Linked DNA regions of Homo sapiens: all the other regions are linked to region 2. A link means that fine-mapping ties the variant in region 2 to the plasma level of a protein whose gene starts in the linked region. Region 2 holds a variant in brackets. A gene starts in each other region. All regions are shown on their reverse strands. Region 1 holds the start of FCRL1 (Fc receptor like 1). Region 2 overlaps ZNF624 (zinc finger protein 624). Region 3 holds the start of CR2 (complement C3d receptor 2).

Evidence for each region. PIP is the posterior inclusion probability: the model's chance that the variant is causal. The UK Biobank Pharma Proteomics Project read protein levels with antibody pairs (Olink). The fine-mapping took linkage between variants from a reference panel, not from the people measured, so its PIPs are less certain.
Region 1: FCRL1 starts here. The variant in region 2 is fine-mapped to the plasma level of the FCRL1 protein (UK Biobank, PIP above 0.99).
Region 3: it holds the start of CR2, and the variant in region 2 is fine-mapped to the plasma level of the CR2 protein (UK Biobank, PIP above 0.99).

What each region holds. Positions count from the first base shown.
Region 1 is chr1:157,818,079-157,823,078 of GRCh38, reverse strand. FCRL1 (Fc receptor like 1) reads left to right here and starts at 2,959. Exons shown (of 11, transcript NM_052938.5): 1 at 2,959-3,072. The coding sequence starts at 3,042.
Region 2 is chr17:16,616,570-16,623,409 of GRCh38, reverse strand. It overlaps ZNF624 (zinc finger protein 624), which reads left to right. Exons shown (of 6, transcript NM_020787.4): 6 at 1-2,676. The coding sequence ends at 1,122. It also overlaps the pseudogene SRSF6P2. Among named protein-coding and RNA genes, the nearest start is that of ZNF624, 34 kb to the left of the region's middle. The variant C/T (reference allele first, on the strand shown) is at 3,802.
Region 3 is chr1:207,450,870-207,457,709 of GRCh38, reverse strand. It overlaps CR2 (complement C3d receptor 2), which reads right to left and starts at 3,382. Exons shown (of 20, transcript NM_001006658.3): 1 at 3,234-3,382. The coding sequence starts at 3,291. RefSeq lists silencers at 2,824-2,933, 3,314-3,543.

The DNA of each region.
Region 1 (5,000 bases), not on the chromosome of region 2:
AACTGGAATTCAGACTGCTGGTGGGAATGTAAAATAGTAAAAATCAAGTAGGGAAGTAATTTAAGTTTCCTGAAAACATAAGCATATTCTCATTCAATAATTCCACCCTGGAATAGTCACCCAAAATTTTGTACATGAATGTTTATAGCAGCTTTATTCATACTACATGGATGAATCTCAAAAATATTATGCAAAAGGAAAGAACTTAGAAACAAAAGAGTAAATATTATATGTTTCAATTTGTAGGAAATTCTAGAAAAGGCAAATCAAATCTATAGAAAGCAGATGGAGAGTTACCTGGTTCTGGGAGGTTTGGGGTGACTGGGAAGGCACACAAGGAAACCCATTGAGATGATGGAAATGTTCTAGATCATGACAGTGATTGCTTTTACATCAGTGTGTATGTTTGTCAAAAATCATTGAATCATATACTTATGATGGGTTCATTTCAATGTATATTAATTATAACTCGATAAGCTGATTTTTAAGAAAGAGAACTATAAACAAAATATTCAGAGTGGTAATTACTTCTGGAGAGTACACGAGGAGTGGGTTAGAAAAGGCACACTCAAGTAGATGTAATAGTATCATGTTATGTTCAAGTTCTTTTTTTTTTTTTTTTTTTTTTTTTTTTTTTTTGAGACGGAGTCTCGCTCTGTCACCCAGGCTGGAGTGCAGTGGCGCGATCTCGGCTCACTGCAAGCTCCGCCTCCCGGGTTCACGCCATTCTCCTGCCTCAGCCTCCCGCGCAGCTGGGACTACAGGCGCCCGCCACCACGCCCGGCTAATTTTTTGTGTTTTTTAGTAGAGACGGGGTTTCACTGTGTTAGCCAGGATGGTCTCGATCTCCTGACCTCGTGATCCGCCCGCCTTATGTTCAAGTTCTTAAAACAGTCTGGGGATAGGCTCATGGCTTTTCATTTCATCGTAGTATTTCATAATTTATATTCATGTTACTTTTTTGTATGCATGCATGAACTATCACATTATAAAAATAAAAGTGTGAGAGAGCTTAACAAATAAAATGTTATAGCCTTTATATCTGTGGAGGAGGAAACACATTTTAATCTGAACATCTTGTGAAGGCACTGGAGCAGGACACACAGGAAGAGATGTGATGAGAATCAACCTAAGACCCCAACAACAGATGAATCCATAAAGAAAATGTGGTGTATATATACAACGGAATACCATTCAGCCATACAAAATGAAATCCTGTCATTTGTGACAACATGATGAAGCTGGAGGACATCATGTTAAGTGAACCAAGCCAGACACAGAAAGACAAATACCACATGAACTTACTTATATGTGGAATCTGAAAAAAATAAGAAGTTGATATTATGGAAGTATAGCATAGAATAGCATCTATCAGAGACTGAGGAGGGAATGAGGAGGGAAGAGAGGGAAAGATTGGTCAACAGGTACAAGGTGCCAATTCGATAGGAGGAATAAGGTTTGGTGTTTTATTGCACAGTAGGGTAACTATGGTTACTAGTAAGGTATTATATATTACAAAATAGCTAGGAAAGAGGCTTTTGAATGTTCTCACCACATAGAAATGAAAACTGCACGAGACAATGGATATGCCAACCACCCTGATTTGATCATCACTGTACAACATATATATGTATTATATTGCAATGTCAAACTGTGCCCCATAAATATGTACAATTACAATGTGTCAATTAAAACATTAAAAAAACCAACAGATTAAAAGAAAAAGAGAGAGATGAAACAGCAGAGTGTATGCAAAAACAGCTTTACACCCTGGATTTAAAGGGCTCTACATTCTCATTCAGGAGATTTTTTTGCATTGGTCCTGAAACTTTACACTAAACAAGCTTATCCCCACACAGGCTTTCCTAAGCCAATAAATAAAGCTATGGAATACCTATTCGTTTTCAGCACTTTCGCTGTTAGCCTGGTTACCAACATTGCTCCCTTTTCCCTCTGGTTTTGCGTATCACTGAATAGTTTCTTTTCTCAGTCATACTCATTGAGCTGGATACCTGGACTTAGACATCATTGCCTGACAGCATCTTTCCCCTAATAGGTTACTTTCCACACATTCTAGTTATTCTTAATCCTAGACACTCACGGATTTAAGAAATGTTGAAAATTAAGATAGCTTATTCTCCTCCAATCCCTAATCTAGGCTTCACTTGCCTAGAACTGGTATCCCTAATGTGCTAAAGGTAGCAATGGGAGAGATTATAGGTGCCCTGATTTTGAGGGAAAAGAGGGGCAATTTTACAAATGCCAGAGTTAGTACTAATGGTGAACCCTTCTCAAGTGCCCTGAAGCTAATTTGCATATACTTCTTTTCTGTATTTCATTTTCAAATATCCCCCAGATTGTAATTTGCCGTGATTTTATTTTTCAGTGATTTCATGCTCATTTACTGGTACACTGAAAGTTTGAATATCAAAGCGTATATCTGTATGAATAGGTTGACCCTGTACATAAGTCATCATATGCAGCAAGGGTCAGACACTACACATAACCGGGGTGACAGCCCCATCAGTCCCTGATTTAATGACATGTTTGCATAATATGACTATACTAGAGAAAGTTTGCATAGTGGGACTATATTGCTGAGCAAGAAGAATGTGCCAATTAGAAACAATCCAGGAGACATCCCTATCAAAGGTGAAAAGTATTGTAGATGTATCAAAGATGAATTTCAGCAGGACCATAACCTGATGAGACTCATCAAAGTAGGAAACTGCCTTTAGAAAACTTCCTTTGAAATACCTGAATTCTTGAAAAAGTCCCTCAAATATTGATGTGTACTATCTGCAGCTTGTGGAACTGAATCAAACTATATTTAAAAAGGAGCATCTTTAATTTTCTCAGACTTCATAGAAAAGGAAATGGAGACTGGTCACTAGAGGGTTCTTCTTCCTTCTACTTCTGCTGAAGGGTAACTTCCGATATCAACTTCCTCAAACCTCTGATGAGCTGCTGCTGCTCGACTCTGAGGTGCATTCTTTTTTTGATGAGAGGCATCTCTAGGTACCATCCCTGACCTGGTCCTCATGCTGCCGAGGCTGTTGCTGTTGATCTGTGGTGAGTTGGGCAACTCAGAGCAGGGCATGGGATGCAATCATGCTTGGGCTCTGCTTCCTGAAGGGCTGTAAGGACTTCTTAGGACTAAGGTTCTGTCAGGTAATGCTCAGGGGTGCTCAGATCTCCACTTCCACGGAGGGCTCAGAGTCAGGCAAAAAGTTGTAGATATTTCAAAAAGCCAGAGTTTTCAAGAAAACTATCATTTCAGTTTTTATCTCATAGGAAGTGTTCACTGTCTGTCTTCCTTTCCATCAATAATTGTCTTTGTTCTCAGTGTTTTCAACAGCTGCCAAAAGAAAAATCTGTATAATAAATAGGCCTCTGAATTCCTTGCCCTTCTTACTACCAACGTTATTTCCTTTTATCCCTCTCTGACTCCCCATTCCCACAGTCAAACCTTAGAACTTATCATCACTCCTTTGTTTTCAGCATACATCCCCCACCCCCACTAAGTTGTGTTTCTAGCTCACTTTCTCCTGCACTCTATTTCCAACATGACTTCAATTACCCCAGGGCTACTTTTCCATTATCAGTAACTACACTTCATGTGCTCACTTCTCATGGTGCTCAGCTCAGATTCTGCAGCTCACCACCACAACACTCCCTCGAGCACACCTTCATCTCTCTTCCCCCATAGCACTCTCCTGGTTTACACGCCCTTCTGCATGCTTCACTCCTGGACATAAACAGCTGAATGGGATTTTTTTTTAAATGCACAACCCTGATGACTTATCCCCTTTTAAGTGTAGGACCCCCAAATCTCAGGTAGCCAACAGCAATGCCAGGCAATTATCCTACATGTTCACAGTCCATGTTGCTCCATTATCACTATTGCATACCTTATCCTGTCACCTCATACTTCTCTGTTCACTCTCATTGTGTAATCTTGCTTCATATTTCATTGAGAAAATAAAAGCAGTCAGAAGAAAACTCTCTCATCTTTCTGTTGCTGTTGACCTACTCACCTCTGCATTCACATACACTGCCTTCTCTTCCCCTACCACGAATATATTGCCCCTCATCTTGTTGATGACAAGACTCTCCACTTGTGCATTAGGCCCATGACCCTCTTACTTTCTCAAAAAGTTTGCTCCATCATCAATATGTTTCTTCATTCTAAATTATTCCCATAAGTATACAAACATGCTACAGTATCTTTTATTAAAAACAGCTTTATTGAAATATTATTCACATATAATACAATTCACCATTTAAGTTATGCAATCCAATGGTTTTTTATGACAATCACTGAGTGGTGCAACTATCACCACAATCAATTTCAGAATGTTTTCATCACCCAAGAAAGAACGCCATACCCACTAGCAGGCATCCCCAATTTTTTTTCCAACGCCTCACCTATCCTCACCCCTCTATTTTCTGGCCACATGCAATCATTATCTACTTTCTGTCTCTCTATATTTGTCTATTCTGGACACACACCCCATATCTAACTGTAATTATATATCCCTTGAGCAACATTTCCCTCATTCCTCCTTCCCCACTATTACCCAAGCTTCTTGTAACCATGATTCTGCACCGTCCTTCTATGAGATCAACGTTTTCAGATTCCACATGAGTGAGATAATGCAGTACTTGTCATCCTGTGCCTACCTCATTTCATTTAACATAATATCCTTCAGGCTCACCCATGTTGTTGTAAATGATAGGATTTCATTATTTTTTATGTCTGAATAGTATTCCATCATGTATGTATATTGCATTTTCTTTATCCATTAATTTTTTGATGAACATCTACATTGATGCTGTCTTGGCTATCGTGAATAGTGCTGCAATAAATGTGGGAGTGCAGATATCTCTTTAACACACTGCTTTAATTTCCTCTGGATACATGTCCAGTAGTGGGATGGCTGAACCATATGGTAGTTCCATTTTTTATATTTTAAGAGCCTCCATACTGTCTTCCATAA
Region 2 (6,840 bases):
ACTCACACTGGGGAAAAACCCTATGAATGTAATGAATGTGGGAAAGCATTCAACCGCATCGCAAATTTCACAGAACATCAGCGAATTCACACAGGAGAAAAACCCTATAAATGTAATGAATGTGGGAAAGCATTCATTAATTATTCATGCCTTACTGTACACCACAGAATGCATACAGGAGAGAAACCTTATAAATGTACTGAATGTGGAAAGGCCTTCATGCGTTCTTCTTCTCTAATTATACATCAGCGTATTCATACTGAAGAGAAACCTTATCTGTGCAATGAATGTGGGGAGTCTTTCAGAATAAAATCACACTTAACTGTACATCAGAGAATTCACACTGGAGAGAAACCATATAAATGTACTGACTGCGAGAGGGCATTCACCAAAATGGTAAATCTCAAGGAGCATCAGAAAATTCATACTGGAGTGAAACCCTATAAATGTTATGACTGTGGAAAGTCCTTTAGGACTAAATCATACCTTATTGTACATCAGAGGACCCATACTGGAGAAAAACCATATAAATGTAATGAATGTGAGAAAGCCTTCACTAATACATCACAGCTTACCGTGCACCAACGAAGGCATACTGGAGAGAAGCCCTATAAATGCAATGAATGTGGAAAGGTTTTCACAAGTAACTCAGGCTTTAATACACATCAAAGAACACATACTGGAGAGAAACCATTTAAATGTAATGACTGTGGGAAAGCATTTAGCCAGATGGTACATGTCACAGAACATCAGAAAATCCATAGTGGAGAGAAGCCCTATAAGTGTGATGTCTGTGGAAAAGCCTTCAGGAGGGGTTCTTACCTTACAGTGCATTGGAGAACACACACTGGAGAAAAACCCTACACCTGTAAGGAATGTGGAAAGGGTTGTATTACTCTATCACAGCTAACCCTACATCAGAGAATTCATACTGGGGAGAGGCCCTATAAATGTGAAGAATGTGGAAAAGCCTTCAGAACTAACTCAGACTTTACTGTACACTTGAGGATGCATACTGGAGAAAAACCCTATAAATGTAATGAATGTGGAAAAGCCTTCAGGAGTAGTTCGAGCCTTACTGTACATCAAAGAATACATCAAAGAGAAACTCAGTTAATATAAAGAACAATAAGTCATTCACCTAGATGTCAACTCCACAAGATGAATCTTATAAACTATATTTTATGAATATAGGAAAATCTTCATTAGGAATTTATCAGAAAGTATACAGAGAAACTATAAGCAATTATGTGGGAAATCATTTAATAATATTAAATCTTAGAAGTTATAAGGAAACTCTCACTAGAGGAAAATAATGAACAAATGAAAGTGTTCATCCAGATTTCATACTTTACTCATTTAACAAATTATCTTTAGTTAATTGCCTATATATGTATTTGCCTATTTTTCTATTCATTTATCTGTCTTTTCTTATAAACCTGGAGGTGCTTTTTATATATTTTTGATATTAATCCTTTGTCATTATGTAGCAGATGTTTTTCTTAATCTAGCATTTGTCTTTATACTTTATAGTAATGCACAACATTTTTATAGGAAAATATTTGTATCATTTCCTTTTTAGATTTTTTATTTTACTCATTTTACTTAAAAGAGATCTCCTTAATCCCTAGGTTATACGTAGTATCCTAAATGTGTTTTTAAGATTTTTATGATTTTATTTTTTACACTTAAGTCTTTAATCCCTCTGGACTGGATGGTTCTTCATAGGAGAGCAACTGTAGGTGATCATTATCCTGTGAAAATATTTTGAACCTAAAAAGCACTCAGGGAAATGCAAATTGAAATGCTCAGTGAGATGAAACTTCCCCTTCATGGATCTGGCAAAAATTAAGAGATCTTTTGCTAGCTATTGGGGTTTGGGAAACCATGTACTATTACTTAAAGGTTGTGTAACATACTTCCACCAGCAGTCCAACAATATATGTTTAAAAATTTAAAACATATATACTCTTAGACCCAGCAGTCTCACTTTTGGAATCTGTCCGTTAGAAATAAAAGCAGCATCAATGCATAAGAATGTAAATAAACATGTTTGTTGAAGTACTGTTTGTAGAGGGGGGCAAAGCCCCAACTGCAAACAAAGTGAATGCCCATTAATAGGGAACTGGTTAGATAAATTGTGACATACCCATATTATGGAACAGTGTGAGAGTAATTTTAAAAACGACTTATATCTATGCTAGCTGATTTCAATGTATTTCCACAATGTATTGATAAATAATTGCTTTATAACAAATGTATATATACAATATATCATTTTTGTTAAAATAATCACACCCATTTATTTTGTGTTTATGTGTGTGTGTGTGGTTAGATGCACATGGAGACAGGTATGGAAGAATATACACCAGGCTGTTAATATTGATTACCTTGAGGGGAGTGAGAAAAGGAGAAGTAGAGATAAGGGAAGGGGAGACTGTAAAAACAGAAAAATGTAAATGCTGCCTTTATGGTATAAAACTGTAAATGTAATATTATGTAATTATGTGAACTTTTGAGAGAGATGAAAGGATGGTCTCCAAAAAATTAATGATGGTTATTTCTGTTTTAGTGGTTCATCAATTTTTTGTTTTTTACTTTCTTTTCTGTGTTTTTAAGTTAATTTTTTCCTTGCAATGAACCTGTAATATTTACATTAAAAGGAAAAATATTTTCGTTGTGCGTTTTATTTATTGGACACCTTCAATGTGCCAGGACCTACCCTCAGTGCTGGATATACAATGAGGGGGAGAGGTGCTCATGCATCTTAGAGCATGGAAATTGGTTCTGATGTTACCTAAATTCCAAAAAAAGTTACTTAGCATCTTATTCCTACCACCCACTGAGTTTCATTTGTAGGAGGTGATAGAAATTCCAGATAGATGAAAAATGTGCCCAAGAATATCTGGAACTTGTGCCCAGGCTGTAGACCAGAAGACCTCAAGCCTCAGAAAGAAGTTCCACTTTCAACATGCCACCAAAGAAAAGGTCACAGTGGCAACAACAGGTGTCTTTATGGAAGAGGCCGTGTAAAGCTTCTGAACTTTGCATGATGAAGTGTAGAGAGAGAAAATAGCCAATAACTCCCAAGTCTATAAATGAGGGCTTGGAAGTTCTGGGAACACTATGAAATACTTCTGCTAGGAGGGGCCTAGAGTAACAATGGGAACCCAGAAGCTGTGTCCCTGATACCAGAAGGCCCTAACAGACCAAAGACCTGACATCCAAAAAGAACAAGGCATGATGAGTTACACTTCAGGGAGGATAAGAGGATCAAATACCCTTTCACGATGCCAGGGTAAATATGTATTTAACATTGGGAAAGACACTGATGTGAATTATCTTCCATCATAAATGAACAATTTGACATTCTGGTTAAAATGGCCATTTTTGATTGAAGTTTAATAGTGAAACATTAACTATTACTAAGAGACCAATCCTCATTGAGGATAGTTAATGTGCCACTTTCTGACTGAAAGGTTTGAGAGTCAGACCTTTAAGAAGCCCTGCTGTCACAGAGTTGACATCGCATGGTGCCAACTTTGTTGGTCCCTCCATTCTGCCTCCGAATCCTCACTACATCTAAACCCTCCCTCCCATTCCTGCCTTAGAGGCAAACGCCTCAAGAAGAGGAATGTGGTCAGCAGGTTCAAATGACAAAAGAACTGAAAAGTATCCATTGGGGAAGGGGTTGGGGATGACCCACACCAACCTGACTAGAGCAGTTTCAGTGGCACGGTGAGCTCCCAGGGCCTGGTTCTTGTGCATGCCGCTATTCCATTATGGGTTTAATTTGCACTT[C/T]CTCAGTGGATAATGCTGTTGAGCCCCTCCTTTCGATATGTGTTGGCTTTTTAAATATCTTCTTTGGGAAGTACCTGTTCAAGACTTTTGCCATTTTTTAGCTGGGAACTGATTTTTGCTCATTTGTAGGATTCTTTATATATTCTGGAGACGGGGTTTTTTTAGATGTTTGTATTACACATATCTCATCTGCAGCTTACCTTTTCACTCTCTAAATGATGTCCTTTGATGAACAGAAGTTCTTAATTTTGATAATAACTTTTCTTTATGATTAGTGCTTTTTTGCCCAGTTTAAGAAATATTTTCCTAACTCAAGGTCATAAAGATATTTTTCTACATTCTCTTCCACATATCTACTATTTTATGTGTATGATCCATCTGAAATTAATATTTATGGTATGGAGTAGAGGTCAAAATATTTTTCATACAAATAAGCAATTTGTTCAACATCATTTATTGAAAAGGCCATCTTCCTCTCTCTCCCTTGTTTTGCAGTTGAACATTTATGATAAATCCGATGATCATGCATGTTAGTGTCTTTTGGACTATGTCTCGTTGTATGCTTTTATTATTGTAACAATACCAAATATTTTAAATGAAAACTGATAGTACAGTTGACCTTTGAACAATTCGGGGGTTAGGAGAACTGACCCCTTACACAATAAAGAATCATTGTATAACTTTTGACCTCAAAAACTTAACTACTAATAACCTACGTTTGACTAGGAGCCTTACCAATAATATAGTCAATTAACACATATTTTGTGTATGTATTAGATACTGTACTCTTACGTAAGCTAGAGAAAAAATATGATTAAGAAAATAAGGGAGAGAAAATATATTTACTATTCATTAGGTAGAAGTGGATCATCATCAAGATCTTTATCCTCATCGTCTTCACGTTGAGCAGGCTAAGGTGGAAGACGACGAGGGGTTGGTCTTGCTGTCTCAAGTGGCAGAGGTAGAAGTAAATCCATGTATAAGTGGTCCCACACAGTTAAAACTTGTGCTCAAGGGTAAACTGTATGTTTTCTAATTTTGTTCTTGTTCAAAATTGTCACTATTTTAGGTCCTTAGCATTTTCATATACATTGTTGAATGATTTTTTTTTTCAATTACCCCATACCAAAAAGCTAGGATTTTGTTGGCATTACATCAGATACATAGATTAATTCTGGAAAAGTGAAGTTATAAACATGAATATTGAGACATTTAATCTATGAGTATTCCAAAACATTTCATTTATATAGATACTTTAAACATTTTGGGATTTGGTTTTGTTGTTGTTTGTTTTTGAGTTGGATCCTTGCTTTGTCACCCAGGTTGGAGTGCAGTGGCACAATCTCGGCTCACTGCAACCTCAGCCTCCCGAGTAGTTGGGATTTACAGGTGCCTGCCACCACACCCGGCTAATTTTTTGTATTTTTTTTTTAGTAGAGATGGGATTTCCCCATGTTGGCTAGGCTGGTCTTGAACTCCTGACTTCAAGTGATCCACCTGAGGCAGGTGGATCCTGAGGAACTAACCTCAAAATTTCAGCAATTCTTATATTTTTGCAACAATTTTTTCAATTATAGAAGTTGCTAACCATTGTGTGGCTGGACTCGGCCGCCACTATGGTGTGAGGCGCGTGTTCGGGCTCTTGCCGTCCCCGCACCCGCACCGCGGCTACTGGCTTGCGGTCCGCCGTTCCACAACCAGCCCTTGGGCCCCCGCCCGCCACGGACATGCCGCGCGTCTACATAGGACGCCTAAGCTACAACGTCCAGGAGAAGGCCATCCAGCGCTTTTTCAGTGGCTATGGCCGCCTCCTCGAAGTAGACCTCAAAAATGGCTACGGCTTCGTGGAGTTCGAGGACTCCCGCGACACCGACGACGCCCTTTACGAGCTGAACAGCGAGGAGCTCTGCGGCGAGCGCGTGATCGTAGAGCACGCCCGGGGCCCGCGTCGCAATCGCGACAGCTACAGCTACGGAAGCCGCCGTGGTGGAGGTGGATACAGCAGTCGGAGACATCTGGCAGAGACAAATACGGACCACCTGTTCGTACAGAATACAGGCTTATTGTAGAAAATCTTTCTAGTCTGTGCAGTTGGAGAGATTTAAAGGATTTTATGCGACAAGCAGGTTAAGTAACCTGTGCGGATGCCCACAAGGAAGGAACAAATGAGGGTGTAATTGAGTTTCGCTCCTACTCTGACATGAAGCGTGCTTTGGACAAACTGGATGGCACAGAAATAAATGGCAGAAATATTAGGCTTATTGAAGATAAGCCACGCACAAGCCATAGGCGATCTTACTCTGGAAGCAGATCCAGGTCTCGATCTAGAAGATGGTCACGAAGTAGGAGTCGCAGGAGCAGCCGCAGTAGATCTGGAAGTGTCTCAAAAAGTCGCTCCCGTTCCAGGTCGCGGAGCAAAGGTCGATCACGTTCTCGATCAAAAGGCAGGAAATCTAGATCAAAGAGCAAATCTAAGCCCAAGTCTGATCGGGGCTCCCATTCACATTCTCGAAGCAGATCTAAGGATGAGTATGAGAAATATCGAAGCAGGTCTCGGTCCGGATCCCCCAAAGAAAATGGAAAGGGTCATACAAAGTCAAAATCCAGATCAAGGAGCCAGTCCCGTTCCAATTCGCCGCTACCTGGTCCACCCTGAAAGGCCCGCTCTGTGTCCCCTCCACCAAAAAGAGCTACTTCAAGATCCTGTTCTAGATCTCGCTCAAAGTCAAGATCAAGGTCCAGGTCGAGTTCCAGGGATTAACTCAGAACTCTCTTGTTGTCTGCACACTATTATGGAACACTTTCCTGCTTAGGCAGTTACTCTTCCATGTTTATACTTGGTCTCTTCTGCAAGAGGAATCTCTTGAAAACAGGGGCACACAGAAATTTGATATGTGGCCAAATTGGATGAAAAAGATGAGGTTTAAGGAAATGGTGGCATGAAGACCCTCTCCCTTCTTTGTAGAATTAAGATAACTATGATTTTATAGCTTTTGAGCTAACATAACTTTTGTAAAGATTAAGCTCATTTAGTTTTTG
Region 3 (6,840 bases), not on the chromosome of region 2:
GTTTCAAGGTAAAGGAAGTCATCAGTTTTTGCTGAAAGACTGAGAAAGATTAACATAGAAAAATGACCATTGGATTTATCAGCATAAGGGTCAGTAGCGACATTGCAAGAAACAGCTTCAGGAGACTGTGGGGAAGAAGCCTGTCTGAAGTGGAGAAGGAGATAACGAAATTTGAGTAAGTAGTCAATGAAAAGTTTTGCTGAGAAGAACAAGAAGAGGGACAGGAAAATGGAGTTCCAGTGGGTCATGAGAAGGTCCATAAAGGATTTCCTGGGGTATACTTAAATGCTGGTGGGGATGATCATACAGAAAGAGGTACATTGATGATGCAAGGTAGGAGATATCTGCAGAAGTAAAGTCCTTGCAAAGGCAAGAGGGTATGGAACATGATCATGAATACAGGAAAAGGAGCTGAATTTGTCAGCAGAATGGATACTTCTTTCATTGTTATAGGAGGAAACATACCAAGATTTCAATTCATATTTATTGAATTCCAAATTACAGGCTATTGATAGGAACTCAAATCAGGAAATAAGGCAGATTAAGGTCTTGCACTCATGGAACTTGTATTCCAGTGAGGGAACAAACAACAAACAGGTACATAAATAAGGAAGAAGGTTTTAGATGGTGATAGGTGGTCTGTAGAAAATAGAACACAGTTTTGTATTGGAGAGTACCCTGGAATATGGATACTTCAGACAAGAGTCAGAGAAGCACAACAGAGGGCTGAGCCTTGAATGTCAAGGAGACAGGCAAAGAATAATTTGTAGGAAGAGCATTTCAAAAGAGAGAATACCTAGTGCAATTGTGCTCAAAGAATAAAGAGAAGGCCAGTGTGGCTGGGGCAGAGAGAGTGAGTGGGGTACAGAGAATTTCAGGGAGAGGCAGAAGGCCTCAGACTGGAGAATAAGGGGTATGGGTTTTATTCTAATGTGACGGGAAGGCCTCAGCAGGTTTTCTGCAGTGGAGAACAAAATCTGATTCTAGATGGAGGTAAGTTTGTAAGTTGGTAGGTTTGTAGCCGATTAGAAAATGGGAGCATTCTTGTTTCATGGTTTTGTTTTCTCAGCATAGGATAAAGTTAGGTGGCCACTGAAGGCTTGAGTAAAATCTAGAAGTGTAGGAAATTTGAAACTGTTTATGCAAATAGACAAAAGGAAAAATAGGAAAACACTAAAAAGGAAATTTGCTTCCATTGACTTTGCTTATAGCAGTGTGCCCTATAGATACTTGTTGCAGAATCTTCTAGAGTGATTGTTAAACCTCAGCTTTCCTGTGCTAACTCCAAACCTATGAACCTCTGGAGGGGGAGGTGGAACCAGGAACCTACATTTTATAAAGGTACTTTAGTATTTTATTAAGCACACTCAAGTGCAGGAACTGGCCAAGAGATGATGTGTGGAGAGCATGCAGTAGCAGTAAAAGTTAGCAGTGGAGAGTGGGCAAAGCATGAGCCATGGGAGACAGGTGGGGAAGACCATGAGCAGCGCATACAAGACAGGCAGCTGGAGAAATCAGGGGGTGTGAGCTTCGGTGAGATCCCATTCCAAAGGGCTAGAAAGGCTGAAGACACCAGATTTTCTTCCACTGGAGGCCTTTTAGATTTTTGAACAATGGAGTGAAATAATGAAAATATATATATTTCTTAATTTTTTGTTTTCATAATTGGAAAGTGACCTATAGGTCACTCTTTAACCTTTCCAATCATAAGAACCAAAATCTCTTAAAAGAGATGAGGTTGTTACACAGGTAATTATAATGCTTAGGATGGGAATACTGGTACAAAAATGAGAAATGGACAAACAACAGAAGCACAGTAGCTTGAATGGCTGATAGGTAGACCTGGTATTTCATGGGGCTCCAGTTAAGTGACCTACATGATGCTGCTGCTGTGGCCCTGAATTGGCAGGACTGGTGAAGAATTTGATTTTCAGTTGATAATATCCTCTTTGAAATTTAGAAATAGGTGAGAAGTCAGGGACGTACTCTGCTCTTAGAAAAAGTGTGAATATACATTTGTTCAAAGGGAGTTAATATGCAGAAAAAGAAAAGAGATGAAGATAATGGTCTGGAGAAAGGTTTAAGGGTCAGGAGACAGTAAAATGTCAGGAAAGCAAAAAGTTGTAATAAACTAATATGTGCTGTATTCCAGACACCTCAATAAGCTGGATGTCCATAGAAACAATTGGACACCCAGCTTGTTAGCTTAAATGCTGGCTCCATAAAATCAAGTCTGTACAGGAGGCTTATTACTGATATTTAGTAGTAACGACTAACATCCAACTTTCTTTGCTTAGTTTCATCTGTGCTCAGGGCAGCTCAGTGAGGTGGAAGGCCAGTTAATCACTAGTTTCATTTTACAGATGAAGAAACTGAAGATCAGGGAGCTAAATGACTTGCCAAAAGTCACCCAGTTATTGAGGTCTGCACACAGTAAACGTCTTATAAACTAGGAATGCACGGTACCGTGGAGATAATTAGAAACTTAGACCCATCCTGTAGCCAAGAGACGCTAATCTTAATTATAATCTTTCTTTAAAATCAAGCCAATCTGGAGGAAAAAAAGATATAATAAACGGTGAATGAGACCTTTGCGGACGTCCACACCATTACAGTAGGTTAATAACAAGAAGAAAACAATAGTTTTAATCCATGTCTCAAAAATAACTACGGATGGTTAATGTTTAGGATCTCTACCAATATCACATTAGAGTTCAGAAAATCTGAGACCCATGCTTGGGAACCAGGTCTTACTCTTATTTAGGGAAGGGAGCCGAGGTTCTGCCGCTTTTGCTGGGCAAGAGCGCGGTTCGGGTGTACAGAAACAGCCTCACGTGGCTAGCTGGTGCCTCATGCAGTGGGTAGGTTTCCCGTGGCGAGCGGTAGCGCTGACCGCCGGCCAGAGAGCGATGAGCACCTGCAGAATCCTGGGGGCGGGGAGCCCGGCAGGAGACCGCGAGCACCCGCACGCCGCCAGCCACACCGGGCCGACCAGACAGCGCCCCTCTGTGGCGCAGCCTCCAATTCTGGAGGTCCCAGCTCCCGGAGGGGCCAGTGGGGACAATCAGGACCAGGCGGTTTATTGCAGTGGTCCCTCAAAGCTAGCGGGAGGCGGACACGCGTCGAGCACTGCCCCCACCGTCTCGCTTTTGGCCCCCTGCTTTGCATCGCGGCACAGAAACTTTCCCTGCCCGGGACGCGTCCCCACCTCCGTGCTCCCCCTCCCAGCTCACCGAGGACCCCCGGTGCGACGAGAGCCAAGAAAACCCCGAGCAGGCCCGCGGCGCCCATGCCACGGCCGAAGCCCCCGCGGCGGGATGCGTTCCGAGACCCGCGAGCGTCCGGCAGCTCTGGGAGGGCAAGGCTGGAGCAGCAAGCAGCTGTGAGCCAGGAGAGGCGGGCCCTTAAATAGTGTCCGGCACACGTGCTAGTTCTGAGCGCACACCTGCAGGCGGCCTGGGGGCTGACGCGGCGCCGGTGAGGGTGGGACAAGCGGGAGGGACGGCCCGGCACGAGGTGGGCGGGGAGCTCTGAGCCACTCTTTGGCTCAGACTCACCCCTCGTTGCGGTGGCTTCCCCACTTTTTTGACCACGCAACCCACTACACTCACTTGTTTCTCTTACTAGAACTTAAACAAAACTTTCACAAGTTAGTACTCACCCTTAGTAATCTACAATGTTCGTCCTCTGTGCCATGCTGTGTTATGCTAGACTAGGCTAGGCTATCCTATTCTTATTAGAAATCCACCAAACTCATTTCAAAACCTATTAGTGGATTCATCTCCCAGTTTGAAAAAGCAGTGTAAGTTTACTTAGGGAATTTAGGAACAGCAGCCACTTCTGCTCTGTTCTTTATTTTGAAGTAATCTCTACAGAAAAGTTTCAAGAGTACTGCAGAGAATTCCCATATACTTGTCACCCAGATTCTCTGCATGTTAACATTTTGCTGTATTTTCTTTACCATTCTCTATTCTTTCTCTATAGACATATATGTACATATATGTGATTATATAATTATAATTATATAATTATTACTTTGGAACCATCTAGCATTTATTCCTATTCTAAATGGTTCACTAAGGACTTTCTGTTCCATAACTAGAGTGCAATGATCAAAAATAAGAACTTAACATTGACACAAGACTATAAGCTACCATCTGTATTTAAATTTTGACAATCATCTCAATAACCTGTGTTATGGTAAAAACAATAACAACAATAGAAACCAACCTTTGTTTTTCCTGGTCCAGAATCATTTCAGGATCATGTATTGTGTTTGATCATTATGCCTTCCCCCCACCCCCAGTTCTTTATTCTGGAAAAATGTCCTCAGCATTTTTGGTATTGCATGACCTTTACATTTTTGACGAATACACCACAATTATTTTTGGAGAATGACTTTTAAGTCCGTTATCTATTATAATAACAAATTACCCTGAAGGTAGTGGTGTAAAGCAAGAATAAACATTTATGATCTCACAGTTTCTGTGGGTCGGTCAGGTGGTTCTGGCTTGGGATCGCTCAGGAGATTGCAGTTAAGACACCAGCTGGAGGTGCAGTCATCTGAAGGGTTAACTGGGATAGGCGAATCCACATCTAAGATGGCTCACTTACCAGCCTTTGGCTGGAAGCTTCATTCTTCACCACGTGGATTTTGCCATAGGGCTCGCTGCTTGTGTGTTGAGTGTCCTCGTGACATGCCAGCTAGCGTCTCTGAGAACAAGAAAGAAGAAGCCATAATGTCCTTTGTGACCTGTCCTCAGAAATCACAATATGTTAACTCCAGAATATCCAATTGATTGTACAGATCAGCCCTTTTCAGTGTAGGAGGGCAGTATACGTGGATGGTAATGTCAGGAGACAGGATCACACCCCACAATTTGGATTTGTCTATCATTTCTTCATGATAGATTCAGGTTATTGAATCTAATTATTTGACAGGAATACCAGAAAGGATGTCTTATCCTTACGGGGAGGCATATGTTGTCTATTTGTCCTATTACTGGTGGTGGTAACTTTGATCACTTAGTTAAGATGGTGCCTGCCATGTTTCTTAGTGTAGACTCAGTATTTTTCCCTTTGTAATTAATAAGTATTTTATAGGGAGATACTTTAAAACTATGTAAATTCCTCATTTTTTCATCAAATTTTTACCCACAAATTTTAGCGTCTATTGATGATCCTTTCTTGAATCAATTTTTACTATGATGGTTGTCAAAGGGTGTTTTTTCCTAATTTAATAATTACTTCTATATTCATCTGTTGGCATTTTACTGTAAATAAAAGTTTTCCCTTCTCTATTTATTTATTCATTTATCTATATCAGCATAAACTATATCAATATGAATTTTATTTATTTACTCAATGGGTCATAATTCATGGCTACCATTATTTATTTTGATGCTTAAATTCTCCCTGATCGGGCCAGTGGGAGCCCTCAAAATAGTTCCTATGTCATTTTGACTTGTTCTTATTGTTCTTTGAGCACTTCCTTACTTTCTGGCACACACACAAAAAAAAATGCTCCAGACTCACCTCTAGACCTGACACTGGAATTTGCTGTTTCTCCAAGGAATGCTGGTTCTTTCTGGCAGAGAATGGCATTTAGATGCCAGAATTGGATGCTAAGTGTGTTCATTTTTATTGGAGTATCATTGTTTCCGCACCCTCTCAGCAGACAGAGCAAGGATATGTATTATATATATATATGTATATCCATTCCCATATCTATATTTATATATGTCATGAATTCACAGTGATTCTTCCAATTTCAGTCCGTTAGCATAGAGTTCATTCTGTCCTTCCCTCTTTCTGCATGTGTAACTCCCTTCTTCAACAGTGAGACACCTAGATCCACAATATATTTACTTATTTGCTTAATCCTAGAATACACAGAAAGAAGTTTAAAATTGCTATTTCTATACTATGATGGAAATCAAATCTACTCGTTTTTAAAGTTTTATTTTGTTTATAGCCCGAAAATATAAAAACAGCATTGTTGTGTTCCAAAGTTACTCAGATTATTCCCCCTCTTCAGTGTGATTGTTATTCATTCAAAATACTGTTAATTTGTTTCTCTTTGTATTCTATTTTAGTTTCCCCTCAATCTTTTTGATTTTTTTTTGCTTAAATAAAACATTAACGTAGTCCCAAATGTCAGATTGATATAAAAAGACACAATAAAAGGGAAATGTCACTTCTCTCCATCACCTCTATCCTCTCCACCATAGGTACTCAATTTCAGTAGTTTCTGGTTTGTCCTTAGTTTTGCTCAAATGAGCTGCTACACATTTGTCTTCTTAGTTCTCCTTTTTTATTACATTTTAAAAGCATGCTATAGGTATTCTTTTGCACATTTCTTTTTTAACTTAACAAATATGCTGGAATCCACTATTTCCTACAAATTCAAATATTCCTCATTCATTTTTACAGTTGCATGCAATACTTCACTGTGTGGATATGCCATAGTTTATTCAACCATCTCCCTATGTATGGACAGTTTGGTTGTTTTTAATGCTCTAAAGAGTAACTTTGTGAATATTTATTTTTCTGCTGTTAGAAGCATGTCTTCAGTTCAAATTCCTAGAAGTGGGATTGCTGGGTCAAATGGTAAACACATATGTAGGTTTGTTAGATATTGCCAAATTTCCTTAATAAGAGTTGTACCACATATATTCCTACAAAACTGTGTGAGAGCACCTCATTAATCTAATGTGCTGTCATCATGGTTTTAAATTTTAGTCAGTCTAATAAATGAGACATTTTATCTCAGTGTAGCTTTAATTTGCATTCCCTATGAGTAACGCTGAACATTTATAAAATATATTTTTATCATGTATA